Linked DNA regions of Homo sapiens. The protein of the gene in region 1 purifies or fractionates together with the protein of each later gene. This does not show direct contact. Each region holds a gene or a part of one and is shown on either strand. Other genes may lie near its edges.

What was found. Proteins that work in one complex are often made in the same cells at the same time.
Region 2: the proteins of COL10A1 (region 1) and C1QL4 purify together in Homo sapiens (co-immunoprecipitation; 3 studies listed by BioGRID and IntAct, with this or other methods). This does not show direct contact.

Annotation. Positions count from the first base shown.
Region 1 is NC_000006.12:116,118,333-116,123,162, reverse strand, and holds the end of COL10A1 (collagen alpha-1(X) chain precursor), read left to right. Parts: intron 1-1,201; coding exon 1,202-3,090; 3' UTR 3,091-4,254; downstream 4,255-4,830.
Region 2 is NC_000012.12:49,334,189-49,342,021, reverse strand, and holds the start of C1QL4 (complement C1q-like protein 4 precursor), read left to right. Parts: upstream 1-4,833; 5' UTR 4,834-5,544; coding exon 5,545-6,081; intron 6,082-7,833. UniProt on the Homo sapiens protein: May regulate the number of excitatory synapses that are formed on hippocampus neurons. Has no effect on inhibitory synapses. May inhibit adipocyte differentiation at an early stage of the process.

The DNA.
Region 1 (4,830 bases):
ATTATTTTTAGTGTGAACATGACCCTTATAATCAGATTCTAAAGCAAAGCTCAATCTAACATAGTTGGCATTTTAAAAAATCCACTATTTTATTCCTCCAACCCATTAAAAAATTCCTTATTTATTCCTCTATTTGCAATATATCAATATCCACTTATACATAATATAATCATGTATGTACACTACAATCAATGAAATATTTAATATACGGAAATCTTTTACATAAATTTTTCTCACAGTCTTTTTCCTGATGTCATTTTCTGAAAATCCATGGGGAAAGCTCTATGTATTTATATTAATCAATGTTTTCAAATTGAAATATAACTCTAATTAGTAAAAAAAAATCTAAATCTGAAACAATTATTTTCCTATTTCGGCATATCTATTTTAATGATTCGCTCTGCATTTATATACACCAAATGTTTTCCAAATCTCAGAAACATCTGTACCCTGTGCTTTCCCCATACTTGTGGCCCAGCCGCATTTTTCACATCACAGGCACTATGATTTTTAGTTTAAGTTTAGTTTATCAGGTCAAGTGAACTCACAGCTCTATGAAATCAAACACTATATATTTGTATTTAGGTAAGAACTTTAATACTATTTTATGTACCTCACCTATTATGTCTAATTCTCTAGTTCTTTGTTTCAATTTTAAGTCAATAATGGAGAGTATAAGAGCTCAGAGTATATTCTGAGGTAAAAGTAAATCAACCAAAATCTAACCTGTGTTCAGCAGAGGCATGGCAGATGTAAATCAGAATTAATTCTGTTTCTCTTTTATGTCTGACAGGGTAGCTTTGGGAGGGAAAATTTTTATAGTTCTTAAACATTTTCTCACTTATTCTGCACTGTCTTTTTCTGCCTTTTCTGTACATGATTTTCCCAAAATAAATGTACTAAATTTACCTCCACTGCACTTATTCTAGAGGAATTCTTCAATCCTAGCTCATTTTCATGAATCACTGTCATGGGATAAAAGTATTATGGTAGCCATGGTTTTGTGAAACCATCTTCTCCAGCAGAATTTTTTAAAACAGTATAAAACATATAATCTAAAACCATTTCAGACTGTTCTGTCTACATGGAATAAATGATGCTGAAATATCGTGTCCCAATTCATAGTTTGAAAGGCAATGATTCTCTTTAATGTCACTAACCATCCCCTTCTATGGGTGGGTGTGTTGGGTGTGTCTTTTAGGTATAGCAGTAAGAGGAGAGCAAGGTACTCCTGGTCCACCAGGCCCTGCTGGACCTCGAGGGCACCCAGGTCCTTCTGGACCACCAGGAAAACCAGGCTACGGAAGTCCTGGACTCCAAGGAGAGCCAGGGTTGCCAGGACCACCGGGACCATCAGCTGTAGGGAAACCAGGTGTGCCAGGACTCCCAGGAAAACCAGGAGAGAGAGGACCATATGGACCAAAAGGAGATGTTGGACCAGCTGGCCTACCAGGACCCCGGGGCCCACCAGGACCACCTGGAATCCCTGGACCGGCTGGAATTTCTGTGCCAGGAAAACCTGGACAACAGGGACCCACAGGAGCCCCAGGACCCAGGGGCTTTCCTGGAGAAAAGGGTGCACCAGGAGTCCCTGGTATGAATGGACAGAAAGGGGAAATGGGATATGGTGCTCCTGGTCGTCCAGGTGAGAGGGGTCTTCCAGGCCCTCAGGGTCCCACAGGACCATCTGGCCCTCCTGGAGTGGGAAAAAGAGGTGAAAATGGGGTTCCAGGACAGCCAGGCATCAAAGGTGATAGAGGTTTTCCGGGAGAAATGGGACCAATTGGCCCACCAGGTCCCCAAGGCCCTCCTGGGGAACGAGGGCCAGAAGGCATTGGAAAGCCAGGAGCTGCTGGAGCCCCAGGCCAGCCAGGGATTCCAGGAACAAAAGGTCTCCCTGGGGCTCCAGGAATAGCTGGGCCCCCAGGGCCTCCTGGCTTTGGGAAACCAGGCTTGCCAGGCCTGAAGGGAGAAAGAGGACCTGCTGGCCTTCCTGGGGGTCCAGGTGCCAAAGGGGAACAAGGGCCAGCAGGTCTTCCTGGGAAGCCAGGTCTGACTGGACCCCCTGGGAATATGGGACCCCAAGGACCAAAAGGCATCCCGGGTAGCCATGGTCTCCCAGGCCCTAAAGGTGAGACAGGGCCAGCTGGGCCTGCAGGATACCCTGGGGCTAAGGGTGAAAGGGGTTCCCCTGGGTCAGATGGAAAACCAGGGTACCCAGGAAAACCAGGTCTCGATGGTCCTAAGGGTAACCCAGGGTTACCAGGTCCAAAAGGTGATCCTGGAGTTGGAGGACCTCCTGGTCTCCCAGGCCCTGTGGGCCCAGCAGGAGCAAAGGGAATGCCCGGACACAATGGAGAGGCTGGCCCAAGAGGTGCCCCTGGAATACCAGGTACTAGAGGCCCTATTGGGCCACCAGGCATTCCAGGATTCCCTGGGTCTAAAGGGGATCCAGGAAGTCCCGGTCCTCCTGGCCCAGCTGGCATAGCAACTAAGGGCCTCAATGGACCCACCGGGCCACCAGGGCCTCCAGGTCCAAGAGGCCACTCTGGAGAGCCTGGTCTTCCAGGGCCCCCTGGGCCTCCAGGCCCACCAGGTCAAGCAGTCATGCCTGAGGGTTTTATAAAGGCAGGCCAAAGGCCCAGTCTTTCTGGGACCCCTCTTGTTAGTGCCAACCAGGGGGTAACAGGAATGCCTGTGTCTGCTTTTACTGTTATTCTCTCCAAAGCTTACCCAGCAATAGGAACTCCCATACCATTTGATAAAATTTTGTATAACAGGCAACAGCATTATGACCCAAGGACTGGAATCTTTACTTGTCAGATACCAGGAATATACTATTTTTCATACCACGTGCATGTGAAAGGGACTCATGTTTGGGTAGGCCTGTATAAGAATGGCACCCCTGTAATGTACACCTATGATGAATACACCAAAGGCTACCTGGATCAGGCTTCAGGGAGTGCCATCATCGATCTCACAGAAAATGACCAGGTGTGGCTCCAGCTTCCCAATGCCGAGTCAAATGGCCTATACTCCTCTGAGTATGTCCACTCCTCTTTCTCAGGATTCCTAGTGGCTCCAATGTGAGTACACACAGAGCTAATCTAAATCTTGTGCTAGAAAAAGCATTCTCTAACTCTACCCCACCCTACAAAATGCATATGGAGGTAGGCTGAAAAGAATGTAATTTTTATTTTCTGAAATACAGATTTGAGCTATCAGACCAACAAACCTTCCCCCTGAAAAGTGAGCAGCAACGTAAAAACGTATGTGAAGCCTCTCTTGAATTTCTAGTTAGCAATCTTAAGGCTCTTTAAGGTTTTCTCCAATATTAAAAAATATCACCAAAGAAGTCCTGCTATGTTAAAAACAAACAACAAAAAACAAACAACAAAAAAAAAATTAAAAAAAAAAACAGAAATAGAGCTCTAAGTTATGTGAAATTTGATTTGAGAAACTCGGCATTTCCTTTTTAAAAAAGCCTGTTTCTAACTATGAATATGAGAACTTCTAGGAAACATCCAGGAGGTATCATATAACTTTGTAGAACTTAAATACTTGAATATTCAAATTTAAAAGACACTGTATCCCCTAAAATATTTCTGATGGTGCACTACTCTGAGGCCTGTATGGCCCCTTTCATCAATATCTATTCAAATATACAGGTGCATATATACTTGTTAAAGCTCTTATATAAAAAAGCCCCAAAATATTGAAGTTCATCTGAAATGCAAGGTGCTTTCATCAATGAACCTTTTCAAACTTTTCTATGATTGCAGAGAAGCTTTTTATATACCCAGCATAACTTGGAAACAGGTATCTGACCTATTCTTATTTAGTTAACACAAGTGTGATTAATTTGATTTCTTTAATTCCTTATTGAATCTTATGTGATATGATTTTCTGGATTTACAGAACATTAGCACATGTACCTTGTGCCTCCCATTCAAGTGAAGTTATAATTTACACTGAGGGTTTCAAAATTCGACTAGAAGTGGAGATATATTATTTATTTATGCACTGTACTGTATTTTTATATTGCTGTTTAAAACTTTTAAGCTGTGCCTCACTTATTAAAGCACAAAATGTTTTACCTACTCCTTATTTACGACGCAATAAAATAACATCAATAGATTTTTAGGCTGAATTAATTTGAAAGCAGCAATTTGCTGTTCTCAACCATTCTTTCAAGGCTTTTCATTGTTCAAAGTTAATAAAAAAGTAGGACAATAAAGTGATGGGTGGCTTTTACAGTTGTCATGGATATGTCCCTATATTGGTGATGCATCTTTATTCCCACAGACCCAACCACTCATTGTTGACTGTGAAGAGGTACCCACAAAACCACATGCAATCTGAGTCAGGGTCAAGGGCTGATGACTAGGGATAGAAAAATGACAAAATCACCCCAAAGTTGTAATTTTCTCCTGGGAGGGAAAGAAGCAGGTGACAGAGAAATATGCAGTTTGAACAAATATTCTGCAGTTACTATTTATTGTCTTGACATGTTTTTGGTTATAATATTTAAAATTGTTTTGATGGCTTGAATTACATTTTAAAAAGGCAAGCAATTTTTTTGTCAATCACAAGGCAACATTTTTTCCAAGCTGAAAAATACTACTCTTAAGAATCCATCATCCTATTAGTTTAATCAGGACAATGTGGCTCAAGTCACTGAGGTAACATACTATAAAGGCATCTATTTATTCCTTAGAAGCAATCTTGTGTAATCCAAGCAAAGCTGTGATTGGAAAGGTAAAACTCTGGGCTCAAGATTGGTGATATCTCTGCCCTCACTCTGGGTCAGCCAGTTTTGTTCCTTAAGCA
Region 2 (7,833 bases), on another chromosome or scaffold:
TCACTGAAGTCCAGCCCGCCTGGGGTGCTAGTTCGGGGTCCAGGTCCGGGTGCGGTGGGTTGGGGCTCGTTAAGTGTCCTGCTCGTCAGAGAAAAGCTGGGGACCCCAAGCAGAAAGAGCATCCTAGGGCCTTCCTCGCTTAGCCGAGCCCTCGAGACTTGGAGCTTAGCACTACCTCCTGGTCTCGGGGCTCTCATCAGTATGCGCCCCTACCTCAACTTCCCGCACCCCACCCGCCTCCTTTCACCTGTGGGTCTCCCAGACCCGGAGTCAATATCCCAGAGGAGAAATGAGGGGTCTGACAGCTCTCTGTGCAGCCGATCCCCACATTTCATTAACTGGAGGCTGGAGCTGGCAAGCGGTGGAGGCAGAGGGGGGCACAAAGGGAGGTGGAGGAGTCAAAGGCTAGGAGCAGCACCTGGCCAGGGGTGGAGGGCTGCCGAAGTAAGTCAGCAACAGCTCTGACCTGGCAGACACCTTGGAAGCAGTCTTTACCCACTCTCTGAGAAGCCAGGAGCTTGTCTTCAGCCCTGTGGACCCTGGTGCGATACTTTGAACTTAAGGTTGCACTGAGTTTTGGTGCCAGAGGCACTGGCTGATGAGTGGGAGCCCTGGGCCTGGCCGTGATGGCAGAGGCAGGAGGGTAGTCTCTGCAAGGAGGCAAACCATGAGCAGGTTCTTGGGCTGGGACGGTTTTCCCAGCTGCAGTCGGAGAACAGCCGGCTTCAGGCTTCCCTTTTGTCCCTTAAGCAAATTTTCCTTGACTCGCTTCGTTTTCCTTTGCCTTCCTTTTTCTCTGCCCTCTCTTCCTCCATCTGGACGGTTGTTCTCTGAAACTAACTTTGGCCATCCTTTAGCCAACAGTTGAGCACCTGTTGGGCATCATGCTTAACAGTGTCAGGGTGGGGGTTGGGGGATACACGGAGCCAAGACCCAACCCTTTTGGCCTCACATACAAAAGGCTCCCGGAAGCCATTCAAATCTCACTGCCCACTCCTGGCCTGCCTCTCTCACTCTTCCACTGCCTTGGGTGCCATTTGTCTCCTCTAGGGAACTGAGAAGGAAGCCAGGAGGTCATAACTCTAATTCCAGGACTATCCCTTACAGGGTGATAATGGACAAGCCATTTCCCCTTTCTGGGCCCCAGTTTTTTTATCTTTAAAATGGGGACAATAGATCTAACTCTAAAGGGTGCTGTGAGGATGCAACGAGAAGTTGCATGTTAAAGCCCTAAAATACAATAAGGACTCAATAATGTTGTTTCCCTTTCCATGCCGTCCCCTGTCCTCTCACGTGGATTCCCTTGTCTTCATACTAGAGGACTGCTACCAGGCAACCCAGGCTGCTTCCAGATCCATGTGATCTTCAATGTGGGAGTTGAAAGCCAGAGTGTGGGAATGAGTAGGGAGAACCACACTGTGACGGGCCCTGAAGGGGAGGAAGGAGAGAGTGCAAGGAAAAAAAAAAAAGTGTTTCCTTAGATCTTGATAAAATGTCAGGCAGCGAGGAGGTTTCTCTTCTCTTACTGATGAGGAAACTGAGGCACGTTCAAGTGATGCAGGCATATCATGCTGCTGGAGCCTTCCCTCCCAAGGGCCCTCTATTGCTCACCTCTTCACCCCCTTTCTTCCCTTGAGGGGGTCTGGGTCAGTGACAGTAAGTGTGAGAGAAGGAACAAAAAGAGAGAACTTTCAAGGAGCCAGGACCTTTCCACTAGACTTCATAAAATTTTAACATGAAAACTTCCACAGAGTAGAAGGCACATATCACATGCAAATCATATGCTAATCACATGCTAATCCAAAGTCTGGTCCTCAGAACTCTGACACACACCTAGCTATAGCCCTGGGGGGGATTCTGGGGATCCCCCTGGGTTCCAGGACAGGTGAGGGAGGCATTCCATTTAGGGTCAGTTTATGGAGTTAAAATTCATTTTAGGATTGAAGAGGAGTCGAGTATATAAATAGGGGTTAGGGTCAAGGCTAATGCAGAGTCAAGGACAGACTGGTCTGTCTGAAGGCTGCATTAACCTTTAAGTGGGGGAGCCTAGGAAACTGTTAAAGGCTTCCTCTCCTCTCCGCTCCCCCTGCCAACTCTGCCCCCCACTTCCACTGCCCCTTCTTTGTCCTGCAGCACACCCTTCTCTACCTACTTCCCATTCCCAACCATACCACCTCCCTGGGGCTTCCCAGTTTGGCTGCCAGAGGAGTTCTGGGAAAATTGTCCCAGACCCTGGCCTGGGCCCCAGCATTGCCTCGAGCCCAGACACTTGGCTTCTGGCCCAAGGTGCACAGGCTGGCCTTGGCCCCACCCAGGTCCCTTCTTGGCAGAATGTGGCAGCTGCAGGGGAAGCAATAAGGACCTGGTGAGCTGGCAGCTTCATTCCAGAGTGTGGGAAAAGAGCAACAGAACATGAATAAATTCATGGAGCTGGCCCCTCAGCTCCCCGTGAGCCAAGCCGGCTCCCCCGACCACACAGATCCGCTGCTGCCTGCAGCCCTGCTGGTCACCACATCTCACAGCCTGGGCTGGGGATGGGAGGAGAGGGGAAGCTCTAGAGAGAAGAGGACTGGGACCTGAAAGGGGCTGAGGTGAGGGACTTAAAAAGGGGACCTTGGTGAGTAGAATGAGTGGAGTGAGGAGTGTGGCTGGGCAGAGGGGGTCTCTGGTGAGTGGAGGGAGGGAAAAGGGAGGGAGAGGAGTCAGGACCTGGGGTGGATGGGGCCTGAGGATCAGGCAGGGGAGGCTGGTGTGAGCCTGGGCCTGCTCTCTGATCCATCCATCATCCAGCCTGGGGGAGCAGATCCGGAATTAGACATGCAGAGGGCTGACACGGCCCTCAGCCCCCCGAGGAAGACAAATGGCGACAAAGACCTTGAATAAAATTTGTATTTATGGTTGGAGGAGGAGGCCCCTCCCCCACTGACTGCCAATCCTTTCTCTCCCACTCCTTGCAGACATGTAGGGGCCTCCCCCAACCCCCAACACAGGCCCAGCCTTAGGAACCTCTCTCTCCCAGCATCATTATGAGGCGGGGGTCGGGGGTGCAAGGAAGGAGTACAGAAAACAAGAGAGGAGGAAATCACTCTCCATCCAATAATCATGCCCTGGTGTGCCCTGTGCCCTCCATCTTACACAATGTTCTCCCATACATGATAGTCCTGGCTTATCCTGGTCTCTAAGAGGCCTTTGCAGCTGCTCACCTCCAGGGTCTCCAAATGCCCCCACTTTTTACCAGTCCTAGAACCTGTTTTCCTAGCCTCTGGGGTCCCTGTGAGCAAGACATTTTCCCCAGAAGGCCCAGGCCCTAAGAGAGGATGCAGCCAGTAGCTTTTTCTCTGGACTCTGATCTAGCAATGCCTGTGTCTAGCAATGTCTTGGCCGCTCGGAAAGACAGATACAGTCCCCTCTTACAGGAGGGTGCCTAGCACCTAATCTGCATTTTACTTACATTAATTTGCATGGCCAACTTCAACCCCCACCCAAATACCCATTATGTGGGATCCAACTTCTCTGGGTTTCATCTAACAACAAACTCTTGAAGAAGGAGGAAGGGGCAGAGACTCCTGGGACTGGATAAGTCTGGGACCAGGGCAGGGGTGGCATTGGGCTGAGCTGGGCAGGGCAAATGAGAAGACAGCTGTCTTCTGACTTCCTCTCTGTCCAGTAGAGTCCTTCATTCTCAGTCCCAAGGTAGGAAAAATGGCATTTGTGGGCTCCAAATTGAGGGACTAGGAGGAAGACAAATACAAATACCTCCCTTCAAACAGCCCTCACATATACATACACAAAGACAACACACAATCCACAATCGCACTCACCCAGGGACACACAGGGCCAGGATCCCATGGCCACCTCCACACTTTGGAGCACACTGTCACAATGCACAGGCCCAGAGCCTAGCACTGCTGGCAGAGCCGCCCTGCCCCCGCATCTTCCCCACAGTTGATATGTCACATTGGAGTCCAAACACGGACCTGGGTGTCTCTCTGCAGCGCGCCATTTACATTTCTCTCTCGATCTGTCAACCTGTCCCGGCTCTGTCTCTCTTCCTCTGTCTCTGTCTCTCCCTCTCCCCCTCTGGGGCTGTCAGTCCGTCTCTTTTCGAAGCTTTGTCTCTGTCTCTGCATCTCTATCTAGCTTTCCTTCTCTTTGATTTCTGTCGCTCCTTCTCTGCTTTCTTGTCGGTTTCTTGCTTGCTCCCCCGGGCTGATCTGTTCTCTTATTTTCTCTCTCTCTCTCTCTCTCTCTCTCTCTCCACACAAACACACACACACACACACACACACACACACACACACACACTCCGCTCCGCGCCCCAATACTGAGGGGTGGGGGTAGGGTTGGCTAGAGATTTGCCTTTTCCAGTTCAGGCCAACTAGTATCAGTTGAATCCTTTACCATGTTATTCGGTCACGGGCGCTGAGGTGCGTGGGGTGGTGAATTTCTATCTTTTCTAGCCCTTCTTATTTTGTTTTCTGTTTGTTTGTGAGGTCCCTCCCCCTCATTTTAGCTCGGGAATCTACCCCTGTCTTCTCTGCGTGTTTGTATCTTGACCCCTCTTTATCCCATCGCTGTTTTGGGTTTCCTCTGGCCTCTGAGAATGCCAAACTCCGGGTAAAGGGTAAAAGTAAAGATACAGCGGGGGCCGCGAAACCCTGAAGAACCCGCTCAGAGCCGGGAAGGAACCTAGGGGCAGTGGGGGAGTGGAGGGGAGGCGGGGAGGACGTGGGTGGGGGCCGCTGCCTGCCCCGCCCCCGCACTTCCCACTCTGGGCACCAGGGGTCGCTCCGCCTCTGGCCGCTTATAGTGGCTCCCGCCGCGCGGCGCCTCATACCACCCGCGCCCGGGAGGGAGGGGAGGAAGGTTAGGGAGGCGGAGAGGGACCGCGCCCGCAGGAGAGAGGCGCGGGCCAGGGCTCTAGCAGGGACTGGGGCCGCGGCAGGGGTAGCAAGGTGAGTCGGTGCTTGCCAAGAGGCAGAGCGCAAAACCTACTAGGAGATCGCGCCCGGTGAGCAGCACCCGCAGCTCAGAGCCCGGGACGTCCGGAGCGCGGGGAGCAGTCCCCTCTCCATCAGGGAGTGGTCTATCTGGGCAGTCTGGGACCCAGGCACCGCGCCATCCCTGAGAGAGCAGCAGTCTGGAGAGCAGGCATCTCAGATCCCTAAGAAACCAGCCGTCCGAGAAGCCGCGGATCTCAGGTGCCCAGGATCGTTAGGACTGAACGGGAGGGTACTAGAGGACCACTGGCTCTGGACCGTCGGGAGCTGCCCCTGACGTAACCCACGAGGGGCCTCCCCTTGACGGACGGCTTGGGGAGCGGCACCGCCGCGGCTGGAGCCCGCAGAGGCAGGGTAAGGGGAGCGGGGGGCAGCCGTCGGGGGAGTGCAGACCCAGGCCCAAGGCGGGTCACCGCCTCCTGGCCCGCGGAGAGCCCCGGCCCCGGCAGCCATTGCGCCCAAGAGTGAGGAAGATTTGCTGGCCCTGGCAGCGTCGCGGCTGAGCCGCCGCAAGAGGGTGGCGGGCGCGGCCGTCGGAGTGGCCATGGTGCTGCTGCTGCTGGTGGCCATCCCGCTGCTGGTGCACAGCTCCCGCGGGCCAGCGCACTACGAGATGCTGGGTCGCTGCCGCATGGTGTGCGACCCGCATGGGCCCCGTGGCCCTGGTCCCGACGGCGCGCCTGCTTCCGTGCCCCCCTTCCCGCCAGGCGCCAAGGGAGAGGTGGGCCGGCGCGGGAAAGCAGGCCTGCGGGGGCCCCCTGGACCACCAGGTCCAAGAGGGCCCCCAGGAGAACCCGGCAGGCCAGGCCCCCCGGGCCCTCCCGGTCCAGGTCCGGGCGGGGTGGCGCCCGCTGCCGGCTACGTGCCTCGCATTGCTTTCTACGCGGGCCTGCGGCGGCCCCACGAGGGTTACGAGGTGCTGCGCTTCGACGACGTGGTGACCAACGTGGGCAACGCCTACGAGGCAGCCAGCGGCAAGTTTACTTGCCCCATGCCAGGCGTCTACTTCTTCGCTTACCACGTGCTCATGCGCGGCGGCGACGGCACCAGCATGTGGGCCGACCTCATGAAGAACGGACAGGTGAGATGCCCCTCTCCCCAACCCAGCTCAGACTGGTCGCTCTCTAGATCTCCCTGCACTCATCCCACAACCTGAGATTATTCCCCGAAACAGCGTCACTGAATCCAGGAACGCGAGGCTGCCAAGAACGATAGATGACTTCATTTACCCACAGAGGAAATTGGGGGCCAGAGAAGGAAAACCTTCTGCCTAGGGCCTCACGGAGTGTAGGAATGGTGTTAGAATTAGAACTCAGGACTTAAACCTGAGTGTCTCTGCAGCTGTGACCTCACATTGCAACTATGGGCAACACCAGATGTCTTTGGTGTCTCGCCCTGCCAACTCGCTTCTTTTCTCGTCCTGTCTTGGGCTATCCTTTCTTCTGCGGCAGCCCCCCTGGCCTTTGGGTCTCTCAGCCTTGCATTGGACCAGCTAACTGGAGTCTAGGCTCCTTCGAATTAGAATGGAATCCATGTCTCAGGCAATAGGAAGTCAGCAGCTGTTCTCATGTTGAGGGCATTCGGGTTGGATGTTTGAGGAAAAGGTATAAAAGGAAGAAAACATTTGCCTGCTCACTTCACCTGCCGATCAGCTGTTCTGTTGCTCACCCCAGGGCTGGGGGCCTAGAACGGCCTTGCCCTCAGCAGAGTCTGTGGCTTGGCAGCTCAAGGGCCAGCCAGGTGGCTGGAATGAATGGATTTGGGGGAGGAAAGAGGCAAGGGACAGGTAGAATAGCCTTGGGCCCTGGCCTGGTCTTGTAGGCCCCACACCCTCCCTAGCAATCTCTCAGTATCCAGGTTCCACAGTTCCCTGCCCTTGTGGGCAGTTGGAGTCACTGTTGCCTCTGTTTTCGGGGAATAGCCCCAAGGACTAAGCTCTAGCACCAAAATTTCACACATAGTGGGAACTAGAGGCCGCAGGTGTGGGGTAGGTGGGAGAAGGTGCCAGAGCTGCACAGGCTGCAGAGGGAGGTTGGGGCTGAGTGGTGACCTCTGGATGTCCAGCATGAAGGGGGTGGTGGCGACCCAGGAGCTTCAGGCCTGCAGGAGCCTGGTACCGCGGCAGCATCTACCTGCCCCGAGACCTGCTTTGGGATCTCATCCCAGCCGGGCTGCCCCAGGAACCCGGGGAAAGGGAGTGAGTGTGCGTCCTCATGGAGTGAAAGAATATGTATGTGTGTCAGGGAGTGTGTGTGAGTGCGGAGTGCGATGTGAGAGTAGAGCGGTGTCTATCTGTATATGACATCGAGTAGGTGTGCTTGGTCCATGCAGGGTATCTGGGAGGAGGTGGAGGGGGCCAGTGTGTAACTAATTCGTGCGGGTTTCAGAGGGGGAGGGGACTGCGCAGCTCCCACTCTGTATTCTTCAGTGCGGGCGCTGCGGCCCTGGGGACGGTAAATAGTGATTAGAATAATGATGAATAATTAATGAGTTAATAACCAGCCCCTGTGGGACTCTCTAGAAGAGGGGGGCTGAAGGCCCGAAGCGACCGCCATGAGCCCGGAGGGGAGGAAGTGCTCCCTGTTCTGGCAGAAGACGACCCCCCACGCCTGGGCACCAGTGGGTGCTTGGTCGGGAAATCCGCGCCCACAGGCGAGAGCGCAACAGTGCACCTTATCATGGCCCGCACCCTATGCACACGCACAGGCACACCTATGCCCCACCACTGGGGAAGCCAACCCTCCATGAGGACTGACAGGAGGTCCCAGCCGGTTCAGAATTTTAGAAATTATCCTATAGGCAAAATTTTATTTTATTTTATTTATTTTTTGAG